2 linked regions of the Homo sapiens genome follow. The protein of the gene in region 1 purifies or fractionates together with the protein of each later gene. This does not show direct contact. Each region holds a gene or a part of one and is shown on either strand. Other genes may lie near its edges.

Region 1 (3,847 bases):
CCTGAATCTGCAAGTGACGCTATCAAATTTGTTCTCCGAGATGCGATGCATGAGATGGAAGAAATGATTGAGACCAAAGGCCGGGCGGCATTGCCAGGGTTGGATGTGGTAAGCAGAGTTCAGTCTAGGCACTGCCCCTGCCACAGAAGTTCTGTTTGGCATCACAGAAGGTGGACGACGGGTACGATGCTCTTGGCTGTACCCTGTGCTTCCAGGGTGATGTGGAGTGAGCTGCACGGCAGCGAGGGTGATCTGGAGTGAGAGTGCACGGCAGTGAGGGTGATCTGGAGTGAGAGTGCACGGCAGTGAGGGTGATCTGGAGAGTGCACGGCAGTGAGGGTGATCTGGAGAGTGCACGGCAGTGAGGGTGATCTGGAGTGAGTGCACGGCAGCGAGGGTGATCTGGAGTGAGAGTGCACGGCAGTGAGGGTGATCTGGAGTGAGAGTGCACGGCAGTGAGGGTGATCTGGAGTGAGAGTGCACGGCAGTGAGGGTGATCTGGAGTGAGAGTGCACGGCAGTGAGGGTGATCTGGAGTGAGAGTGCACGGCAGTGAGGGTGATCTGGAGTGAGAGTGCACGGCAGTGAGGGTGATCTGGAGTGAGAGTGCACGGCAGCGAGCCTGGGAGGGGAGGGCACTCCTCCACTAGCCATGGACTAACGTGTGGGTCGTGCAGGGAGATTCTGGTTTGATTCCACGTGAATGGTGCTGTATTTGGTCCAGTGACAAAAACATTGGAAGGCAAATAGAACCACGGTATTGTCCTTAAGGGCCCAAGCCTGTGGGCTGGTTTAAATTGGTCTCGGTTTCTATGTTATTCAAAGGTTGGGAGACATTTGTACGCTGAGATTTTTAACAATTTTATAACAGCCTCATGCTGTATTTTCAGCTTTAGTAACTTTAAGGAAATACTTGCTGAGATACGCTCTTTATTCTGTTGCCTGGTGTTTGTGTTGAAATGGATTCACAATAGTTAGCAGAAGCTTAAAAATGTAGGACTTAGGTTAGTGATTTTTAATCAACTCCCCAAAACATGATCTGAGCCCGTGTCTATAACCATTGTTGACTGCTTTGAAGTCTTCATGGGCCTCAGTGTCCTCACTGCACGTTTAGCTGGTTGACCCACGGTGGTTGGACGCCTGTTCTGTGACACTGAGGCCAGAGCTCTGGGCCAAGGAGATGCACCCTCTCCTCGCCAGATCCTGTTCTTGGCTCCGGAGTGTTTGCGGGGAGGGCATATGGATGGACTTCATTTACCTTCTTTAACCTGTGGTAACACTTTCTTTCCAGCTCATTTATTTGAAAATCACTGGGCTGCTATTTCCAACTTCCGACTTCTGGCACCCAGTGGTGACCCCTGCCCTCGTGTGCCTCAGTCAGCTGCTCACCAAGGTGCGTTCTCTCCACATGCGGCAGGGGTCGGCCTGCTGCACCACGGGTGGCCGGAGCCACAGCCCCTCGGGGCCTTGTGGAACATGAGTGTGGCTGTTTAAGGGCTGCAGAGACCGAGCACTGCGGTTAGGCCAAAGAGGGCCCATCTAAAAGAGCCCCGGCTCGAGCAGCCCCAGATGTGGGTGGGAGTGGGAGGGCCTGGTTTGGCACCTCAAGGTTACAGATGGTGCTACCCCAGAAAACAACCTTTCAAGTTAGTGGTGAAGTTATCCAGTGTGATGATAAGGGCTTTTGTTCCCTTTTTGGCTTAAAAAGTTCAAGCTGTTCCTTTTTCTTTATTAGGCATGTGATTGGTACATGCTTAGTGCAGTAATCGTACGCTCTGTATGGGTGGAAGGAACTTTATAATCAGTATAGCTCTGGCCAGGCGCGGTGGCTCACGCCTGTAATCCCAGCACTTTCGGAGGCTGAGGCGGGCGGATCACCTGAGGTCGGGAGTTCAAGACCAGTGTGGCCAACATGGCGAAACCCCGTCTCTACTAAAAATACAAAAATTAGCTGGGTGTGGTGCCACATGCCTGTAATCCCAGCTACTCGGGAGACTGAGGCAGGAAAATCACTTGAACCCGGGAGGTGGAGGTTGCAGTGAGCCGAGATTGTGCCATTGCACTCCAGCCTGGGTGGTAAGAGTGAAACTCCGTCTCGGGAAAAAAAAATCACTAAAGCTCTTTATCTTGTTTTCATCTCATTTGATGCTCTCGACACTGCTATAAGGTGCGGGGGTTCCCTCTGTACTTGTGAAGCTCAGTGGGGTGCGTGGTTCATCAGGGAAGCCCGGTGGTCGGCCTAGCATGGCATGACATCGTCCCAGGACAGTAACCCCCCATATGTTCCTTTCCAGTGCCCCATCCTGTCCCTCCAGGACGTGGTGAAGGGCCTGTTCGTGTGCTGCCTGTTCCTGGAGTATGTGGCTTTGTCCCAGAGGTTTATACCTGAGCTTATTAATTTTCTTCTTGGGATTCTTTACATAGCAACTCCAAACAAAGCAAGCCAAGGTGAGTTGATTTGAGGGAGGTTCCTACAAATATGTTATACTTTAGAATTTTTTTAAGTAGTTCATACTCATTGTAGAAAGTTTAGAATATGCGAAAGTAGAGGAAACACACAACCTGCCACCCGCCGCACTGTCTGTCCCTCTGTGTGAGCGTGTGCACGCGCCACATGGGGAAAAGCAGTGCTACCGGTGACCTGTGCTGTCCAGCGTGGTTGCCAGGGGCCAGAGTCTGAACTGAGACGTACCCTACCTGTGACATATGCCCAAGTGGCGAAGACTTAGTGTCAGAAATACTTAAAATATCTTAATTTTTTGTATTATGTGTTAAAATCATAATATTTTGGTATTTGGGGTTAGATAAGGTCTATTGTTAAAATCAATCTTAACTTTTTACTTTTTCTCACGTGACGACAAGGCAGTGTGAAAGTTCTCGTGCAGCTCACACAGGCCGCGCTGCTGTGTCGCTTCTCTTAACGCTCTGAATTCAGGAGCGAGGGCGGCAAGAGCAGTGTTGGGATGAGGAGCAGTCTGCACACTGGCTGCCCTCCTGGGCCCTCACCCCAGCCCCTGTGCTCCTCCCCCTTCCCCTGATGCCAGCCCTGCTCCTGGATGCTTCCTCAGCACTTGCTGCTTCCCTCTGGGGGGTGAGGAGCTGCACAGCCTCTTCCTGAGCTCTTCCATGTCTGTGGACGCCTCTCCCAGCCTGACCAGAGGTTGGACCTCAAGGCTCAGACCCCTGTCCTCTATTTCCAGCTCACCGTGCAGTGCTAAGCGCCTGCATGTCCAGGGGACTGACCTGAGGAGCAGGTGCTGTGGCATCATTCACACCACCAGCAGAGTCCCTTCCAAGAGGGGTCTGGCCCACTCTTCCGGTTCAGTGCTCCCATTCTGCCACCACCTGCCTCCCAAGGCTCCTGTCTGTCAGGCTCGGTGCTGGGCGCCAGAGGGGCGCGGCCGCCCACATGCTCCCTGCCTCCGGGAGAGCCACCTGTAGATAGCTGCAGTCCCACGTGTGAAGGGCTGTGACGGAACAGGCTGGGCACAGGTGGAGTCAAGGAAGGGGTGGGCATCTCGGCTTTGGGGAAGTGTGGGGCGGGGCCTGACCCACGCCTTCCCCTCTCGCTTGGCCCGGCACCTCTGCCCCACTGTACCCACTCTCCACCCCTCCCCGTGTAGCCACACCCTCGGCCTGGATTGCCCTTCTCCGTGGCGAGTGAATTGACTCCTGCGTCCTACAGGCCTTTGCTGACGTCTGCCCCTCAGGCCTCTCCCGCCCTCCACCGTCACCCCCGACTGACTCTCCTGTCTCCCTCCTGCCCCTCCACTTTCCTTTCTCGTGTTCTGTCTGGTCCATTTGCTCCTCTGGGTGCTGTGCACTGCCTGTCTCCCCGACAGGGGCAG
Region 2 (3,847 bases), on another chromosome or scaffold:
GCTGGAAAAGGCAAGGAAGGGATCCTTCCCTGAGCCTCCAGAAGGAACCAGCCCTGCCAACACCTGGATCTTAGACTCTTAAAACTCATTGTGGACTTCTGGCCTCCAGAACTGTAAGAAGACAAATTTGTGTTGTCTGAAGCCACGAACTTTGTGGTAATTTGTTACAGTAGCCACAGGAAATGAATACAGTGGCTTTTATTTTTATTTTTTTATTTTTAGTTTTTTTTTGAGACAGAGTCTTTTTCTGTCGCCCAGGCTGGAGTGCAGTGGTGCGATCTCAGCTCGCTGCAACCTCCACCTCCTGGGTTCAAGTGATTCTAGTGCCTCAGCCTCTCGAGTAGCTGGGATTACAGGCATGTGCTAATTTTTAAAATTTTTTTATAGAGATGAGGTTTTGCTATGTTGCCCAGACTGGTCTTGAACTCCAGGGCTCAAGTGATCCTCTTGCCTCAGGCACCCAAAGTGCTGGGATTACAGGCGTGAGCCATCACACCTGGCCTACTGTGGCTTTTAAAAAATAGCTGTGCCTGGGCCCCACAGAGTCAGGGTACTGACCACCCAGAGGTCCTGACTCAGTAGGTCTGGTGCAGGGGCTTATGCTTATGTGATTTTAGGACCTTCTATGAGTTGAGAACCACTGAACTTGATTGTGTAGTTCCTTGACAGGGACTGCCATTTGATGATCTCCACATGCCCTGCAGAGAGTGGGGTTTCAAAAGCGGGCTGTGAAACTGAATTAGGCCAGCCTTGTCTCACAATTTCTGTCATACTCCTTTGTTTTACTGTTTACTCCCCTAAATGTGGTTCCCATTGGTGACAGAGTTGATAAAGCCCCGTGGCTGCTAAGCTCGAGGGAAGTCCCTGTGGGACTCCCCAGGGGAGCAGTTCCCTCGGATCTGCCTGAGGCAGCTGCAGCTTCAGCCATGAGCCATGCTTGCCCCCACGCTGCCCGTCTGCGCCCTGTGCCCCTCCAGGAACCCAGGAATCGGCGTAGCAAGGGTCCGTGGCCACTAGGGGCAGCACTTGTAACAGAAACGTGTGTCCGCCGTATTCCAGAGCTGTGTGTGGGGTTGAGGTGAAAGACTGACTGGAAATCTATGATGCCCACCTAGTTTATATAAGTATTTCCTGGCAATGTCCACAGTGTCAGGGAAGTGCTGACTGCACTTCCTCACATGGGTAGAAGCCAAATCCAAGGGACCCCTTCGTCCATCAGGGGAGGCTGTAGGCTCCCTGCCTTCCAGTGCCTAGACGGGGCTCAGTGTCATCACACGTGAACGCCTGAGTGCAGGACCCAGGCCACACAATACACCGAGGCCCTGGGTAGGGGCCCGCCATGCGTGCTGACTCTACGACCACGTATATTTGTGCACCAGAAGCAGAGTGTCCCTCTTTGGACTGAACAATGATGCCCCTAAAACTGGAGGCTGCTCTGCTGAGAACCAAGGACCCTGGAGATGGGCCTTGCCTGCATGGTGCCATCTTCCCGAGCACCTGGCTGCTATTGTATGCCGGACAGAGTTTGGCTTGTTACAGTCATGGCTGATTTATTTCATATATTTTAAAAGTATAATCATGTTACTAGCAGAATGGTATTCCTCTAATGTAAAGTCTTTTTTTTTTTTTTTTTTTTGAGACAGGATGCCCCTCTGTTGCCCAGGCTGGAGTGCAGTGGCTCGATCACAGCTCACTGCAACCTCTGCCTCTCGGGTTCAAGCGATTCGATTCTCCTGCCTCAGCTTCCCAAGTGGCTGGGATTACAGGCACCCGCCACCATGCCCGGCTAATTTTTTGTATTTTTAGTAGAGATGGGGTTTCACCATGTTGGCCAGGTTGGTCTTGAACTCCTGACCTCAAGTGATCCACCCACCTCGGCCTCCCAAAGTGCTAGGATTATACTGCACCCAGCCAAAAGTCATTTTTAAATAAAAGGAATATGTTCCTATTGGCAATGTCAAACATCCAATCAAGTAAAAAATGACTTTCAGGGTAGTGCACGATGACATTTCAGTCCAAAACAAAGTATGTTCATGGCAACTGGAAATGAATAACACAGCTTGTAGCCATAATGCTTTGTAATGTTCTCCAGAGTTGTCAAGGATGAGGGTCAAGTTATTGCAAGGGCTGTGACCCTGGTATTTGGTATAAGCACCTATCCACATAATGACTAGGGGCATTCTCTTACCTAATGTGATGTTGCCTGGTGAAGACCTGCATTCTGAGGGTGGCAGTGCTGCTGCTGGGAGCTTCTAGAACCTTCCCCCAGGTGAGCCATCACAGTTCTTGGGAGTCACCACAGCAAAAGGGGACTCTAGGTTGGCCCCTTGTCCTGCTGAGAGGCTGCTACTGCTGATGCCTGGTTTCCGTGACACTGTGGGTTTTCTTTTAACAGCACCTCAGTTTCCCACAATGGCCTCTCTTCTTCCTGCGTGTCTGGGCCCAGTGCTCTTCTCTCTGCTGCAGCCCCACCTCCTAAGCAGCCATCTGCAAGCCATTTTCCTCCTTAGCTTTCAACAGGGACCTGCACCTCATGACCTTTCTGGGGCCCCAGGGCTAACACGTGCCCAGTAAAATGGCCATTCACTCCTGAAACCCGATTCCCCTTTTTCCCTCTTTGTCACTGCAGACACCATCAGTTTCCTCTGCCTTGTCTCATTTCAGGCCCATGTGCTTCATTTTCACCCCCACTCCACCCCCACCCTCATCCAATACAGCTTTCTTGATGGTCTTCGGGCCCCAGCCCTCTGTCTGCCAAACCATCCTCCACACGGTTGCTGGAGCCAAGGTCCTTAAACTCCACATTTAAACTCAGAATCTGCAACTGCTCCTGATTGCCCCCTGGCCTTACTGCAGTCCTCCCAGGCTCCCTTCATGGTCGGCCCCTCTCCCCTTGGAGTCTATCCATTTCTTGCTCTTTCTGGATGCCCAGTCGTCCTCCAGCCAGTGGGCTCAGTCCCCTGCACACATGGGTCTGGCTGCACCTCTGTCTCCACACTTGGCTATCCTCCTTTGTCCCTGACTCCCTCGCCCATTCTCTCCGGGCCTCTGCCATGCAATTCAGCAGCCAGCTGTGCTAAGTGATGTACTGTGTTACCCTGGGGTCCCCGCCTGGTTGTAAAATTCAGGAGTGTTCAGGGCCTACAATCACATCCACATCCTGATGCCTGCGCCCGACAGCACACACCGTAGATGCTTAACGTGAACTGGTTCTGCCCCAGCTGACATCTTCACTGAAGCACTTTTGTATTCCTTGCTGCTGCCTGGCTCCTGCCACAGTCACTGGCAGGCAGGTGCTCCAATATTCAACAAATGAATGAAAGTCCTGACTTTTCATCAGTTTGCTCAGCCCTGGAAACCCTGGACTTACCTTAGCTCCAGCTTCTGCCTCCCTGAACATGCAGCATCGCTGCCTCTCACTGACTCTGCACCTGAAATATTTTCTTGATCCACCCTCCCCGACCCCCTGCCACAGGGTGGGCCTGCACTGCAGTTGGTCTGTTTTAACCATGTTAAGATGCACTTTTTTTTTGTTTAAATATTTTAATATTGTTGAAATCAGGAAGCATCTTAGAACTGCTGTCAGCCTGGAGCTGAGTTCTTCCAGAAAGAAATTACATTTCCTTCTATGTCACCTGGGGACACTACCAAACTAAGGCTATGTCTCACTCTCTTCTCTGCCTCAGGTTTTGAGCTGCACTGGATCTGGCTGCAAATCTTCAGGAGCACTGGCTTGCGGTTCAAATTCTTTTTCTGTTTTTTAGACACAGAGTTTCACTCTTGCCACCCAGGCTGGAGTGCAATAGCGTGATCTCGGCTCACTGCAACCTCTGCCTTCTGGGTTCAA

Evidence for each region. The genes of interacting proteins can lie anywhere in the genome.
Region 2: the proteins of NOP14 (region 1) and MACROH2A2 purify together in Homo sapiens (co-immunoprecipitation; one large-scale study listed by IntAct). This does not show direct contact.

The regions. Positions count from the first base shown.
Region 1 is NC_000004.12:2,942,673-2,946,519, reverse strand, and holds part of NOP14 (nucleolar protein 14), read left to right. Parts: coding exon 1-108; intron 109-1,290; coding exon 1,291-1,392; intron 1,393-2,293; coding exon 2,294-2,447; intron 2,448-3,847. UniProt on the Homo sapiens protein: Involved in nucleolar processing of pre-18S ribosomal RNA. Has a role in the nuclear export of 40S pre-ribosomal subunit to the cytoplasm.
Region 2 is NC_000010.11:70,104,592-70,108,438, reverse strand, and holds part of MACROH2A2 (core histone macro-H2A.2), read right to left. Parts: intron 1-3,847. UniProt on the Homo sapiens protein: Variant histone H2A which replaces conventional H2A in a subset of nucleosomes where it represses transcription. Nucleosomes wrap and compact DNA into chromatin, limiting DNA accessibility to the cellular machineries which require DNA as a template.